2 separate regions of the Homo sapiens genome follow, and region 1 is linked to region 2. A link means that fine-mapping ties the variant in region 2 to the expression of a gene that starts in the linked region. Tissue or cell type: whole blood. Region 2 holds a variant in brackets; the other region holds the start of a gene. All regions are shown on one strand. Distances are between the middles of the regions.

Evidence for each region. PIP is the estimated chance that this variant, and not a neighbour inherited with it, causes the effect.
Region 1: SCYL3 starts here. The variant in region 2 is fine-mapped to the expression of SCYL3 in whole blood (INTERVAL, PIP above 0.99).

Annotation. Positions count from the first base shown.
Region 1 is chr1:169,890,421-169,898,607 of GRCh38, forward strand. SCYL3 (SCY1 like pseudokinase 3) reads right to left here and starts at 3,476. Exons shown (of 13, transcript NM_020423.7): 1 at 3,368-3,476. RefSeq lists enhancers at 2,644-3,231, 3,232-3,819, 3,494-3,903 and silencers at 2,914-2,973, 3,214-3,293.
Region 2 is chr1:169,936,431-169,944,617 of GRCh38, forward strand. The region is part of intron 19 of KIFAP3 (kinesin associated protein 3); the gene reads right to left. Among named protein-coding and RNA genes, the nearest start is that of SCYL3, 47 kb to the left of the region's middle. RefSeq lists an enhancer at 4,825-7,508. The variant T/C (reference allele first, on the strand shown) is at 4,319.

The DNA of each region.
Region 1 (8,187 bases), 46 kb before region 2:
GTAGGCCTTTAAAAATTTGTTTAAAATCTGTATTCTTTGGACAAATATAAACTCAATAATCATTACACATTGACCCTCTACTTGGAATTTTTCCCCACTTCGGTGAAATTCCATACAACACCTTCTACACTGGGTATGTAATGCTGCTCAAAACACATGCCTAGAACAAAATTTAAAGTGCCTACCGATCCACAACCATCGTTATATAAGAAACACATGTATAAAGGCTAAAGCTATCTAAAATTGAAGATTTTCAAAATCTAAAAATGTTGCTGAGAATAAGAACTAAATCTGCTTTGTAACAAATTCACTGAATTCCTACCTACCTGGCAATGTATCTTTCTTAAAAATGACAGAGAAGCAAAAAACAGTACTAAAAGAAATGCCAAGTATGGCAACTATGGTAACATTCACCTTTCTACTGGGACTACAAATAAAAAGTTTATGTGGGACCATGGGTAAAAGCAACAATGCTAATCCCTCTGTTCTGGAGATAGAGTGCTGGCCAGATTGTCACAACCTCCTGCTGAGTAGGGAGGATTATGCTTAGCACTTGATCTTGCCACCTCTTCTTGGGCACAGTTAATGTTGGCAGGTACCTATCCTGGGCCAAAGGGCGGTTAATTCACAAATTAGCCATCAATTTCATGGCCTGAGTGAAGAGATAAACTGGCCAGATCATTGTCTCCCCCAGGAATTTGAACTAAGAACAATTTTTGCCTATTAGAAGCATAGCCGAAGGTAGAAGGATGCTATGAGGTGGAGGTGGAGCTACGGCAAACCAAAGCCACATGAAGTCAGAAACTTTCCAGAGGAAGTCAGTTGGTAGTAAAATTTTAAAAAGCAAACACTGGGACCGTAGCTTAGTCATACTTAGGGGGCACATTACTACTATCCATCTCAAGACTACCGGAAGCCCAGCCTCAAATCTAATTCCACCCAGATACCCTAACATCCCATTGACACCCTTACAACCAGCCCCCTTTTCCTCAGGTAACTTGAATGGGTCTATGTTCTTTGAAACTAATTGCCATTTCATAGGCAGAAAGCTCTACTTGGTCTCCAACTCCTGCCTGAAAAGCCAGTCAGACTGGAAGAGTGAGTTACAGAAGTGTTACTTTGAAAGTATCTGAAGCTAGTCTGACCGTCTCTCTCTCACCCACAAAACACAGCTTTCCAAAATCAACACACAATTAAGAGAAAAGCAGAGAATAAGGGACTGTATATTAATGAATATCTTCTTCGCAGGAAATCATGCTGTTTATTTAAGTGTTAATATTAATCCTCATGGGAGATAAGACTGCCACCAGGATTCAGGGTCAGTGCTCTGGCTGATGAATGGCAGTCACCAGAGGCAAGAGAAAGGAACATTTAATTTACTTAGCTATTTCTAAATAGCAAAATACTTCCTTGTGGGAACATTGGCCTTGCAATAGCTATTAACCTTAGATTTCATATGAATTCCACTATAATTAACAAAGTTATAAAAGCATTAGGAAGTAGTTAAAATTCATTTTTCTTACTGTATTTTAGGTCTAAGACTAAAAAAATCACTTAAAAATTAAAAAGGGATGACTCAATTTCTTGAGAGAACTGGAAAGGATGCCATTTTCTTGTTTTGAAAGCATGTTAACTTTGACAGAAGTCCACTGATACCATCAGTGTAATACTGACAGTGGTAAGATTATATTGTATGTTCCCAGTGCAAACTTTATTGGGGGAAAATTAAAAAGGTGTGCTGATTATTGCAATTTGAGAATGTTTTGAAGCAGTAATTCTTCACACTAATATATCTAAAGAAGCACAAATACTGTTATATGAAGAAGTTTTTTTGTTTGTTTTTTGTTTTAAATAGAGATATGGTCTTGTTCTGTTGCTGCTGGCCTAGAGTGCATTGGCGCTATCCTATCTCACTGTAACCTGGAATTCCTGGGCTCAAGCTACCTGCCCTCCCCAGCCTCCCTAGTTGCTGAGATTACAGGCATGTGCCACCATGCCCGCCAGTGCTTTAAAAATGATAATTCAGCTAAAATTGATTTATTGAAATGTAAGAAAAACACTTGGCCTTCCAAAATGCTTTCCTGTTGTTTTGAGGACGGGGAAAACACAAAATCTTGCTCATTAGCTTTGAAATTAAAAAGTCACAAGAAGGTAGAAAAGGATATCCTAGTATCCCGTAATAGGTATTTCGTAGCACTTAGCATCTCCACTCTATAATAAAATGCTGAGTTGACAGTCTCTGACTTGAATATGCATCAGTCTTCCCTTTAATAATCTCCCTCCACTCTTTTGCCTACTTGGGCAGCACATAAAATTTCTGGACCGCTTGTAGATTAAGAAAACCCTTGTCTAGGTCAAAGGGCAACTCATACACTCAACTAAGAAACCCGTGTGCTCTATGGAAATGTTTCTACCAAATATTTTCTTTTCCCAGCAATTACTCGAGACTACCTTGGTCCTAGCTCCCTTAGCTTGAAAGTTCCAAAGATAATGGCTTGCACTCTGAGTATTAAGGATGCACTGTACTGGCTGATATTCTGGTATCCAGCGGTAACGTTACTCCGGCCCTTGCTTTCGTGTTTCAGGTATATATTCCCTCTGCGGAACTCAGTCCAGCATTGCTAGCTGACAAGCAATACACAATTAAGTCTTTATGGACCAAAATAATTGTGATTTCAGCTCAAGATACATTTTATAAGAACATGGGTCCCTAAAAACAGCAGTTAACAGTGACCCCCAAAATTCGAGACCCGACTCCGAGAATTTCACATGGATTCCTGAATATGCTCTTCCGAGAAATGTTTCATCTTTATTCTAAACAGAAAGCACTATGCCAAGACAGGAGCCAGCTGGGCCTTGGGGGACGGGCACTGGTCTTGGATCAAGAATGAGGCCGCCTTCCCGAGGGCGGGCGCGCCCCCAGGATCCCCCCGGGCTCGGGCACTGCCGCCCCGGGACAGTGACCCGCCCAGCCGAGCACCCTCGCCCTGCTTGCCGCGACCCCGCGGGGTCACTGAAGGGCCGAGGCGCCGCTCTCGCTTCGCTGGCCCCTCACCTTCCACACCTCCCTGCGAGGACCGACTCCGCGGCCGCCTTGGAGAGCTCTGGCCGCGGGCGCCTCACCCGTCGGGGGCCGCCCGCGAAGCGCAGATTACAGGGCGCCCCACAATCAGCAAGGGGAGGCTGCTCCGAAGCTGAGAGCACAGCTCAACCGGCCGCCGGCGCCGCGCCGAGCTCGCTCCCGCGCGGGCCCCAGAGCGCAGACCCGCGAGCGGGGCGCGCGCCCGCCGCCTCCTCCCCGCCCGGCCCCTTCCCCCACGGCGCAGTCCTGCAAGGACTGGGGGCGCAGCGCAGGGCTCCCTGTTACCTGCAGGAAGGCGGCGGGGGAGGAGGCCGAGGGTCTTGGCTCTGGTACCCTGTTGGCCCCCCTGTTGACACCAACCACCCCTGCCTGCCTGTAAGGCTGTGGCCACTACACCCACAATCTTCTGGGGGCCGGGTTTCTCCTACACCATAGAGACGGGTCCGGAAACGGGACAGAAGGCCCACCTTCCTCCCTCCGACGCCACCAATGAGGCCAACTAACCAGGAACCGAGGTAGAGAGGCCGCACAGCTGAGTCTCAGGCCGGTGCCATCTTAAGTGTGGGCGCCGCGACGATACCGAGTTTCACTCACTGCCCCAGTGGTCTAGTTAGTCCACGAAGATGCCCCCTTTCTAGATGTGTTGGTCGAATGCTTAAGTTTGTCTTGACTTGAATTTTTAGGCTTTTAACAGCACAGTTTTAATTTCATTTCCGCCCAAATCCAAAATGGCTGCTGGCCACTTGTAGCAAACAGTAGAGGTGCAGGGCGGAGAAAAGGAGTACGGGAATTAGCGAGGACTTTCAGGAGAGTGACGTCACTCAACCTGTAGCTTTGATTGGCTGGGCTGCGAGGGTGGAGTCGTGCAGAGCCGCTGCTGGCGGAGGTCGTGGTGATCTCGCTTGATCTTTGAGAGGGAAGGTCCTGAATCACATTTCATTTAGCAAAAAGTAATATTTGAAAATTTTAATATTAATGCAGTAGTTTTGCCCCCCTCCATGCTTTCTGCAGTGTCAGTTACCTGTGGTCAAACCTTGGTTCAGAAATGTTAAATGGAAAACTCCAGAAATAAACAATTCTTAAGTTTCAAACCGCCTGTATTCTGAGTAGCCCGATTAAATCTCGGGCCATCCACTCTGTCCCACCCTTGACGCGAATCATCTGTCGCAGGTAGCCGCGCTGTGTACAGTATCCACTCATTACCCACTCAGTAGCTGCTTTGGTTAACAGATGCACCCGTAGTATAGCAGAGATAATGAGAGATACCACCTGCTTATGTTCAGGTAACCCTTATTTTACTTAATAATGGCCGCAAAGCACAGGAATTGTGCTGACAATTTGGATATGCCGAGGAGAAGCTGTAAAGTGCTTCCTTTAAATGAAAAGGTGAAAGCTCTGGACTTAATAAGGAAAGAAAAAGAGTCATATGCTGAGGTTGCCAAAATCTATGATAAGAACAAATTATCCATGAAATTGTGAAGAAGGAAAAAGATTCGTGCTAGTTAACTAAGCACCTATCATGCACTGTGGCTGTAACTTTTGTAGTTTGAGGTGCAACAGCAAAAGACGGAAAAGGCATTACATTTGTGGGTGGGAGACATGAACAGAAAACGTATTTCAGCTGACCGCAGTAAGTTTTGCCAGAAAGTGTTGAGCCTATAGGAAGACTTAAGAAAGGGATCCCCTGAAATTAGGCACACCAAGCTATTTACTGCAAGTAAGGGATGGCTACACAGATTCAGGAATAGGTTTGGACTGAAAAACATAAAAATAACTGGAGAGGCCACATCTGCTGATGAAGAAGCTGCCACATGTCTGGCAGAGTTGAAGACATTGGTTAAGGAGAAAGGCTTCCAGGAGATTGATGGATAAGTTAGGAAAATCATTCAGGTAGCAATGAAACTGCCTTTGCAAAATTATGACTAAGGCAGTTAAAGAGATCCAATTTAACCAACTCCATCTTGTCCTTAACCTCCATGCTATCCTTGTTCATTCCTGGGCATAGGCTGAACTAACTTTGGAAGGAAATTAGTTTATAATTTACAGTTTAAAACAAAAACAATAAAAGCCCTTTCCCAAAACCAACCTCCTTCTTGCCTGGGGTCTAGACTACCAACATTAGCCACAAGATTAGAAATTATGGTTTGGGAGTCATGCAGCTGGAGGCCACAAGATTCTGACCCTCCCTAAACTGCTCCTGAGATCAGTGCTTCAGATGTTTTGCAGACCCTGCACTTGATGGATCAGCTGGCAACACCCAGATGATAAACTGGCCCATCTGATCTTGTGACCCCCACCCAGAACTGACTCAGTTCAAGAAGACAGTGATGCCCCATAGTTTCATCTCCGACCCAACCAATCAGCACTCCCTGACTTACTGCCCCTCCCCACCCACCAAATTGTCTTTAAAAACTCGACTGCTGGAGGAGACTGATTTGAGTAATAATAAAACTCTGGCCCCCCACACAGCCAGCTCTGCATGAATTCTTTGTCTATTGCAATTCCCCGTCTTGATAAATTGGCTCTATCTAGGCAGACGGCAAGGTGAACCTACTGGGCGGTTATAGCAAGACAAGTTGGTGAAAAAGGATTTGTCAATATGCTTGATGAAGAGGTGGGAGAACATATCAAAGGCCTCACTATCCATTCTGAGGACAGGTTTAACCTTCTCAAACTAGAAGCAGGGCTTAGTCACCCTGGACAGTCTCTAGTTCTGTGCCTCCTCCCACTTCCTCTATGTGGTCAGTCCAGACATCTGCCTTGTATGACCGCCTCTGGTGACCACCTCCCTATCGAACCATCAGGTACAAGCTGCTTGCTTCATCCCCTTGACCCCTATACCCCACATATACTTTGCAGATATGCCTCAGTGACCACCTCTTAGTCACAGTGGGACTAAGATGTTGGACCCAGGACCACAGTGAAGGCTTTGGCCCGCAAGTCCCTCTCTCTGTCTCGTCCCCCTCCCACTGGTTGAGCATGTGTGTCCCCCTTCTCATTGGCCCTGTGAGGCATGCTGTCCTCTTATTATGGATCTGTAAGTAATGAAACTGCTTCTATTATTTCACATGTTTTGTTCACCTCCTCTGTGTCTCACCTGACCTATACACCCACACCTGACTTGTTTCCTGGTTAGGGCTCTCCTAGAGAGTGGCTGTCTTGGTTGGAATAAACCAGACACGGGGCAGACAAGAGCCACAAATGTGCCTGCTAATATAAACAAGCTTCCTGTGAGAGGGACCTCCTGTCATGGGTCAGACACCTAGGATTTAGGCCGTCTGCCAGGATAAAGAAGTATTCCATGGAAGGCACACTGTAAATATCCAAGCCCCATCACGGAAGAGCTAACGTTTATAACCACTCCCAGAGAGAGACCTCGAGACCGAATTAGAAAAGAAATACAACACATAGACCCTAGGTTTACTAGCTCCAACATCCATTCCCACTCCTCACCCCCTTCTCCCTTGTTCACCTTCGATAAAGAAGTTAAGAAATCAAAAAGATCACTTTCTGAGCCTACTTTCCCGCTAGGGTGGTCACAAGTTCTGGCCGGTGAGACATAGCAGAAGTTGGGAGGAAGATAGACAGTGGATTAGGAAAGGTTTTTCCTCCCTATTAAAGGAAATGGCTGTGGGTGTAACAGCAGCAGCCACCCAAGCACCAGGAGACAGCGGGAGAACATGCTGAGGATGTCGATTTGAAAGACAGAAGGATTCTCTTGCCTTTCACACTATCCCTCGAGAGTTCATAACTATGTTTTTCCTCCTTTTACAGGAGGAGTAGAGATGAGTCCCTTCAACCAGTACGTGAAATCTTCTGCAGTCAACACAGCTACTTGCTGGCCCACCCTCTTCCCAGTGTCCTCACCTCTGAGTCTTTGCTGGCCTTCCCACCCTGTTCCTTGCTCCCTAATCTTATGTCCAGATGTGCTGAGCTCCAGGGTATCCTCTATAATCATTCATCAGCCTAGAGGACTCTGTATTTCCTTTCATTTCCCCAAGGTAAACCCACTCCTCCAAATATCAATGAGAAGGGAATATTTTGCAGTGAATGGAGTAGGAGAGAGATGGGAGGGAGTTTGACACTCAGTCCTTCCCCTCTTCACTCTTCATCTACTCACCTATTTGCTCTTGATGTCACTCAGGTCTCTGAACAAATGTCACCTGTTCAGACTCTTAAAGATTTGGGGCATTGAAATCACAGGCTAACTTGTATATTTTTGTCCAACAAAGATGCAAATCTTTCTGTCCAGTGGAAAAGTTAACCCCAAAGTTTATTCTTATTGCACTAGAGAGCATTTCTCATTTTAAAATCTAATCTAGTAATCTTACTGTATTTCTTTATAAAATTGCTTGTAAGTATGTAGCTACACAAATGCTCTTTGAACAGTCTTAATGTCTTTTTAGTTTCCTCATTAACTAATGTGTTCATTTTATATTTGCATGAGAGTTATAATTATATTTTGAAAATTCTACTTGAATGCAATTTATCAGAGACAGCTCCCCTGAAAACACTGTCTAAAACAGCACCTTACCTGCCTCTTCCTGTCTTTTGACTTTGCCTTATTTTGCTTAACACCAATGCACATATTTGTTCAGCATCTCTGTCCCACAGCTAGAACATCAGCTCCCTGAAAACAGGGCTTCCTTCCTTCATTTCTTTCTTTCCTGCCATATTTCTAGCACATAACACAGTGCCTAGAACATACTAGGTACTCAGTAAATATTAAACACACAAATGAATTTACTGAGAGCACACTGCATGTCCCAGGCACCCTCCCTACATCTCTCTGCCTCCCAGCCCTTACCCCACAGAGCCCTCTATAGCTCTGGTTCCAGTTCTCAGTTCCCTGGAGCTGCTCTCTGAGCTCCTTCTGCCTTTCTTATGCATAGAAATCTTGTATTCCCTCACTGATTCCTCAGTCCTCATTTTAAATATGTCTAAGGCCAGGAAAGAAAAGAATCTCCAACAACCTGAATCCGCTGTCCTTGGAATGTGGCTGGTGGGACAGTTAGAAACAAATAGTTTGTTTTCTTAATAGAAATAATTTTTTCTTGTCATACTGTTTAAGGATCAACCTGAATTTTACTTCCAACCAATCCTCT
Region 2 (8,187 bases):
GACTAATCCTTCCAAACTACTTATTGTTTTAAAGAAGTAATTAAACACTAGTGAATTGTCAGACCATCAAAGTACGATGTTTTATGAAATAGCATATATAATTTAAAAAGTTGTATTTCAAAAATAATGTGGTTCTTTGTCAAATATTGTACTGCTTAGCTTAGAGTGCTATAAAATCTGAACCTACTTACTTTTTTTCTAAGAAAATTCACATTCTCTAAATTTTGTGTGTGTGTATAAGAAGATACTAAAGGTCTGTGTTTTTGTACTAGAAGTAAGTCAATGAATGACACACTCCACATAGCATGCTCTTTACAAAAAATGAGGGGGAGTATTATTTAAGATAATGTGGCATTCTTTTCTAAATATCATTAATTCTGTTTCCTCTTAAAATTAAGGAGAATTCAGAAATGTTTAAGATGTTTATTCTGCTGGAAATATTTCCAATAGACAAATATTATTTATTCTATTTACACTAGAATAAACATCTTAAACATCTGAGTTCTCCTTAATTTTTAGAGGAATATATATTATATATATATATATTACTCAACATATTGGAGTAACATAAAAGTGGGCAGAAACAGGTAAAAGACCATTGATGTCCAGATACTGACAATGTAGTATTACTTTTATAAGCCTGATAATACTATTACCCTTAAATATTTTCAAAACAGAAAGCTGAAAGAATAATAAAGAGAATGCTTTAACTCATCTCAAAAAATTATATTTTTAACCCTGAACTATATAAGCCTCTTAAAGAGAATGAGATTATTTCTTACCGACCTCCATATCCCTAGACCTCATCCAAGTGCTTGTCAACTAAAAAGGTTATGAATAAAGGAAATTTTAAGTGTTAAAAGCAAACATTAAATGATTCTATATTTTATCCTATATTTTGTGCTTTATAAAGTTAATTTCACCTGTCATCACAGAAACTTTAAGTAAAATTATAAGTATCTTTTGGAAAGAGCAGCAATAACAACATAAAAATCCCAACAGTATATATGCTATTTTTATCATTTATTGACTACTAACAGACCATTAGTTATAACCTGGTAATAGGAAAGAAACATGAACAAGGAAACTCTATTCATTTTAAGTATGGAGTAGTATTTGTTGCTACAGAACTTAAGCTATTGGACTATGAAAACTAATACAGATTTTTAAAATATTCTGATTATCCTCTAAAGATACTCTAAAAATACAACCAACTAAAGATATAACTTTAAGATACAAGTCTAAAGATACAACTTTAAGATCCTCCAAAGATACAACCAACTTTAAGATCCTCTAAAGTCATAACCATCTTCTAAAGTTACACCATCCTCTAAAGATACAGCAGTAAAAATTCTTAATACAAATACTCCCTGATGTTTAAACATGGAGCCATTCCTCCAGGTGCAACACAAAATTTACAACAAATCAGCAATGAAATTGACTATAACTGAAATTATGTGACTTCCAAGCATGTTTTCTACTGATCTTTCTCCATGAAAAATATAACTCCAAGAAAATAATTATTTTGCAATTCTAGTCAGTTGGTTATTGCTATTATTAATGAGATATTGAATACTAATCATATTATTTCTTCCTCTGTTATGGTGAACCTATAATGTTTCTTTAGGCTAGATTAAAGTAGATGGACTAGAAATATGATTTTACACACTTGTAATATTGGGACATTATAAGAGTTGCTTTTGAAAATAAAATAAAATTTTTCTATGATAGAGACTGTGCTTAGATGGGTGTTTCTCAGTATATTTAATTAGACTTGTAGTAGTATAATACAAGTACACTACGAATCCCTTAACTGGATCTTAATTATGAAGGCAAGCATCTTCATCTATGTAAAATATAGCTACTTAAGGTCTGTTTTTATCTTACCTAGGTTATTAAAAAATTTTCCCATATAGCATAGGCTCCTATCAACAATTTTATAATACAAAGCATATGATACTATAAGCAGGATATATAATACACATCTATTTGATTATATATTTAATAGATGGTATGCATTGTACATTTGAAAGGATACTGAAATAGTAAAAATTAAAATTAAGAAATTATAAAAAAGTTCACATTGAAAATGAAACAGCATGGGAAATGGAGTAAGACATCTATGTCTGAATACTGGCTCTGACCTTTAAAACTTCTATTAAACAAACGTCTATTGAGAACCTAGTGGTGCCAGTAGATAGAACTTTGAAAAAGACAGTCAAAGTTCTTGCCCATCTAGAGACTGTATTCTTGTGGTAGGAGGGAGAATAAACAAGTGAACAAAAATTAAATTACTAGGTTAGATGAGGGAGAAGCAGCTTCTTTGATAATTCTCTTAGGAAAAGATTCTCTGAAGAAGGAATATTTGAACTGAGACTTGAAAGGTAAGAAGAAGCCAGTTATTTAAAAAGTCAAAAGACTATTCCAGTTAAGCACAAAGGTGACAAAGTGCGAAAGAACTTGGTGAATGTCTGGGGAAGAGAAGGGAGTCCAGAGTGGGTAGAATTAACAAGCAATTATAACTGGAATATTTGATGAGGCTGGAGATGTAGATAAGTGTCAAATAATGAAGGACTTTATAGAACATGGTAAGAAATTTGTATTTTATTACAGGAGTATGGGAAGCCATTGAAGGCACGTGAGAGACGTGATATGACATACTTGAAAAAGATCATTATGGCTACTGTGGAAAAAATGAAGCAGAAGGGAAGTGCAGAAACAGGAAAATTAATTAGGCTATTGAGTGGTTCAGGTGGCAGATGATGGTGGCATGGAATAGGGTACTAACAGTGAAAATGGAAATAAATAGCCAAATTTCAGATCTATTCCAGAAATGAAATGAAAACAACAGGGCATGCAGATGGTTTGCAGTGGAGAGAGAGGGTAATGGTGAAGAAAAGGGAGATAATAAGGAAGATTCCAAAGTTTAAAGCTTGAACTACTAGGTGGGATGGTGGTGACACATACTGAGACGAGAAGATTAAGGGAGGAACCTGTTTATATGTGAGAAATCAAAAGTTAAGTTTGATAATTTTATTAAACATTCAATTTGATAGCATAAGGAATAAGGATGGTGCTGAGAGGACAAGTCTAAGCTAAAAATATAGGTTTACAAATGGTACTTAAAGCCATGGATCTGGATGTAATCCTAGGTGTGGTGGGTGCAGTTAGAAAAGAGGGTCCCCCAAAACAGGGTATGGATAGAGAACAGGGATATAGCCCTGAAGTAACCAGCATTTAAATGTGGAAAAGAGAAGGAATGGCCAGCAAAGAACATTGGGAAGAAATGACAAAGGGCTTAGGAGGAAAATCAGAAAAATGGGGTATCTTGAGAGCTGAAAGAAGGGAGTTTCAAAAAGCAGGGCCTGGTCAACTGTGTCAAAACCAGCTGAGAGGTAAAGATGAGAATGGTCCATTAGATTTGGCAATATGAAGACTATTGGTGATTTTGACAAGAGTGGGGAAGTTGAAGAGCACATGCAAGTCTTTTGAGAAGTTTTGGATAAAGGGAATTGAGAAACAGGAAGCAGTTGGAATATGATGTGGGGCCAAAGAGTTTAACTTTGCAGATTCTGATTTATGTTTATATGTTGACAGGAATGATCCAGTAAAGGGGAAAAGAGTGACAACATAAAAGAAGTCCTTGAAAAGACAAGAATGGGGTCTAGAGTAAAAATGGGTTTATTGGATTTTGAAAAAACTTCTTTCATTGTAATAGAAGAAAGGTGGGCAAAGGTAAGAATAGTTTATTGATTGAGTGGTGGCAAGATAACCTGGGGTAAGTTGCTTAAACCTACATGCTTCAGTTTTCTTAATAATAGTGTCTCCCTTCTTCAGCTGTTGTGAAGAGTAAATTAGATAAGGGATGTAATAAATAGCAATTCATAAACTGCCTGGAACTCACTAAATATATTTCAATAATTGCCATCATCATTATTGGTCCATCTATCTCATATTGTACATAGATCTGAAACCATTTAGAGCAGCAGCCCCGAACCTTTTTGGCACCAGGTACTGGTTGTGTGGAAGAATTTTTCCATACATGGGGGAGGAGAGACGATTTTGGGATGAAACTGTTCCACCTCAGATCATCAAGCATTAGTTAGATCCTCATAAGGAGCACACAACATAGATCCCTAGCATGCAGAGTTCACAATAGGGTTTGTGCGCCTATAAGAATCTAATGCCGCTGCTCATGCAACAGGAGGTGGAGCTTAGGCAGTAAGGTTTGCTGGCCTGCTACTCACCTCCTGCTGTGTGGCCAAGTTCCCAACAGGCCATGGACAGGTACTGGCCTGGGAGTTGGGGACCCCTGATT[T/C]AGAGAATACCATTTAAAATAATACAATTAGAATAAAGATTGTGTATGTCACTGAAGTCAGCATTGTTTCTACTCCTTTCCAGCAGTTTCATTTAAAACTCTACTGGACTGTTCATGTCCCCAAAACAAATTCTTTTGAGCAGTTGCACTTGTTTAAGAATTATGTGTGTGTGTGTGTGTGTGTGTGTGTGTGTGTGTGTGTGTGTTTAAAGACAACAAAAACTGAAGAAAACAATGTTTACTTCATGAAGAAACTTTCTGTGGACTTGCAAGGTTAGAATTTTGGGCAGATTTAAAGTTGCAAAGAAACGAAGAAGCAAACTATAGAAAAGGCCCTCAGATAAAGTCTAAAATTCTGTTTTCATCTTCATCTTTTTTTCACATGCAAACTATTATGTTACAATTTAAGTAGACATAGGTCTATTTGAAAACAATTCTAAGAGTATAAGCTACATTTTGAAAGTTCAACATTCTAACATTATACCTAATACCTTCTGAAAAGGCCCTGTGAGTGCTGCACCTCTTTCCTTTAAAATGTTCAAACCACTCCTCTTACCCTCCTCTTGTATTGGGGTAACTAACAACAGGCATTTCCCCAAAAGTGGATCCTCTTTTTATCAGGAGATCTGACTTTACTGTCCCCAATTCAGAAACAGTCTTCTGAGTTCTCAATACACTTTTGGTTATTGCTTTTATGGTAGTTGTCTAAATCAATAAATATTACATATTTTTTCTTTATCTCAACATTTTGATTTTTATGAGGATGAGAATAATTTTTTCTGTGAAATTAGATGGCTAAACAGTAACTGTGACTTCAATCTTCTGGGAAAATATAAGCTGATTTCCTTTTTTGATTTATTTTATAAAATTTCATATTTCCATATATAAATTTGACCTAATATAAATATACAATAAAATATATTTATCAATGACTATCACCCAAGATGGCCCCCTGAGGGTGAATTTCTTGACAAAGAAGTTGCTAACTTCCAGTTGCCAACCACAAAAACAAAGCAGTAGAAAAGATAAGAGGTGTAAGTAAAAAATATATTTAACCTGTATTAACTGAATCAGGTAATTAATGCCTCAATTGAGAGGTTTCATTGTAACAAAAAAGAAAATAAATATGATTCTTTATGTACTTTACTATGAGGATGCACATATTAATGTATAAAATTCAGCTTGCTTAAATGTGATTTTGAAATTCTATTGATTTATTCAACATATTCATAGTATTTCCTTTATGTTTGTAAGGACCCATTTGATAAGATGGTATAGTGTGTGTTAACAACAATGTTATTTTTACTCTAAGAAGAGCTCTTATAAAGTGAAACTTCAATTTTTTGAAATCCTTGAAATTCCCTTAAATTTCCTTAAGTACTGTGGTGTCTTCTCTATAATGAAAACTGAAAAATAATGTTATGACTCATTAAATAAACTCAGTAAGTACAAACTTATGTTGAAACTAAACATACAAAATAACTAAAGAAATAACAAACCATTTTATTTTATTTGAGGAGAAAAAAGAAAAAAAGGCTTGGTCTTTAAAAAGGATTAAAATAAACTCAATTTATGGAGTCTTGGAATCTTCACGGCAGTGCAGACGGACTTCCACTTGCCCTCCCCTGGCCCACCTCCTGCACACCTTCTCCTCTTAGTTTATTCACATTTTAAATCTTTCTTCCAAGTTTGGCCTGCAACCACTTGACTGGATAAAGTAGGTCACTTGAAAAGGAAGAAAGCCCAATAAAATGAATTGCAAAGAAAACAAGATTAAACTGATTGTGCTGTTTTCATACATTGTAGCTGAAATTCTGCAAATATGCAGTTGGCTGTGGTTTGGCATTCAACAGAATGTGATCAGTAAGGAGGAAATTTTATTCTCATTAACTGCTGCAGATTTACTGCAGTGAAAAAGGGCTATGTAACCCAAGATGTGACAGTACAGAAAGATCAAAGCCATGGACTGGAAACTAAATAAACCCTCTGGCTACTTCCTGCAAGGAAAATTCACTTTGGCAATGTAGAACAGAGCCCAGTTAAAAACTACTCTCAGTTTTATGAGCTGTCATAGCAGTTCAAGTGGTTTGGACTGGCTGAGTTTATAACATTATATTTCCTTGTTTTTGTCTTAGATACTTCCGTAAGCAGTTTTAAAGACGCCCCCCCCCACCCCTTTAAAAAACACAACAACAAAAAACTAATTTCTTTTGATTGAAACCAAGAAGGTAACCACTAAACTTATTAACGCAGGTAGGTCTTCATTTGCAGATTCCTTTCTCATTTAATACAGCTTAATATTTTATTCTTAGATTTATTTGGTAATATAAATTTACTTAATAATTCATCTACAATCTGTATAATTCCTATTCAGAATAAGTGCAAATCAGTTTACAGAGCCCATATGGCTCATATCTGAGGAGTAAGCTATTTGTAATAGCACATCTGTAAAGACTATGGGCAATATGGAGATTATGGGAATTAATATTACATTTAAAATTACATTTGAAAACCTGTAGGCCCTAGGTTTTAGCTGTTTCTTAAAAAACAAATATCTTAGAAAAAATATCTAATATTTCTAATATAAGAAATCTAACAACTGTTCATAAATAGTTAAATTACATTGTTAAATCAATCAAGACAACAATAGGCTAGATTAAATCTACCTTAAATTAGAAAATATCCCTGAGTTAAGGAGTAAGCTCAATATCATTACACTCATATTTAAAGGAAATAAAAGATGACATGCTCTATTTCTCTCCCTTATTTTTTTAAGGGGGAATAGTGATGCTTATTAACCAATTATATACAATTTTGTTATTCTCATTATAATATGAAGGAGCAAGCCTTTATGACGGTAATTTGCATTATATTACCTTAAAAATCATTTTTGTTTTTTACAATAAGAGCATTTCTAGGTCAAATATGTCATAAGAACCGTCATCCTTGCTTAAAGACTTTCTTTCTTTCCATTTAAATTTACAACTAATTTCTATCTGTAAAGCCAACAAAAATGCAATACATGTGAAAAGTATATGACGTTTAACACTAGATAATCACTCTTAAATGGTGATGATATAATTAACTTGCCAGACACAACTGGATTGGCTTCTGTGTCATTTTTTCTAGTACAAAGCTGTACCATAATTGACATGTTAACATTTTTAAAGGTTCCAGTCATATTCGGGTTACGTTTTAAATTTATAGACTCAATTATGCTGAATTTCTTCTACTAAGTCAAAGTCCTAATGTCACAGGATCCTTGGGGTGTTGCTTTGCCACCCAGAAACCATTGTGGCTGGCGGCACCTTCTCCCTGAGTATTGTTTGCGCCCGCTGGGCTCGTTCTGCCCACTAGGCCCGATAGGCTGTGCTCAGCTTGAGCTACCAACCTGGATCCCACACCTGCCAAGGGTTAGCCAGGTGTGGAGCGGCGAGGTTGTGTGGGTGACCAAGCGCAGGGTCTGGTCACCACGCACAGCAGGCATGCTGGCTGACTGGCTACTATGGCAGGGTGGTTAGCTCCAGGCACTGGTACAGGTGCTGGCTCTGTGTGAGGCTGCAGATGGACCAGATGTACCGCACGCAGCTTCTGCTCTGAGCAACTGCGTCTGGATGAGGGAAACACAGAGGCGCCCAGAAACCTGGAGAAACTGGGAACCGCAGAGCCCCACAGAGGGTGTCACATCCCTGGCTCAGGAGCAACTACGTCTGGGCTCTTGGAAGAGCCACAGCTCTTCCCTCCTTCTCGTTTCCCACAACATGGTGAGTGGGGGCGACGTGTTTCAGCCCCGTTTGTGTTACAGCTCTTTGAGTCCTGCCATTCAGGTCCCAGGTTCTTGTTTCCCATCCAGGAAGAATGAGGTTAAG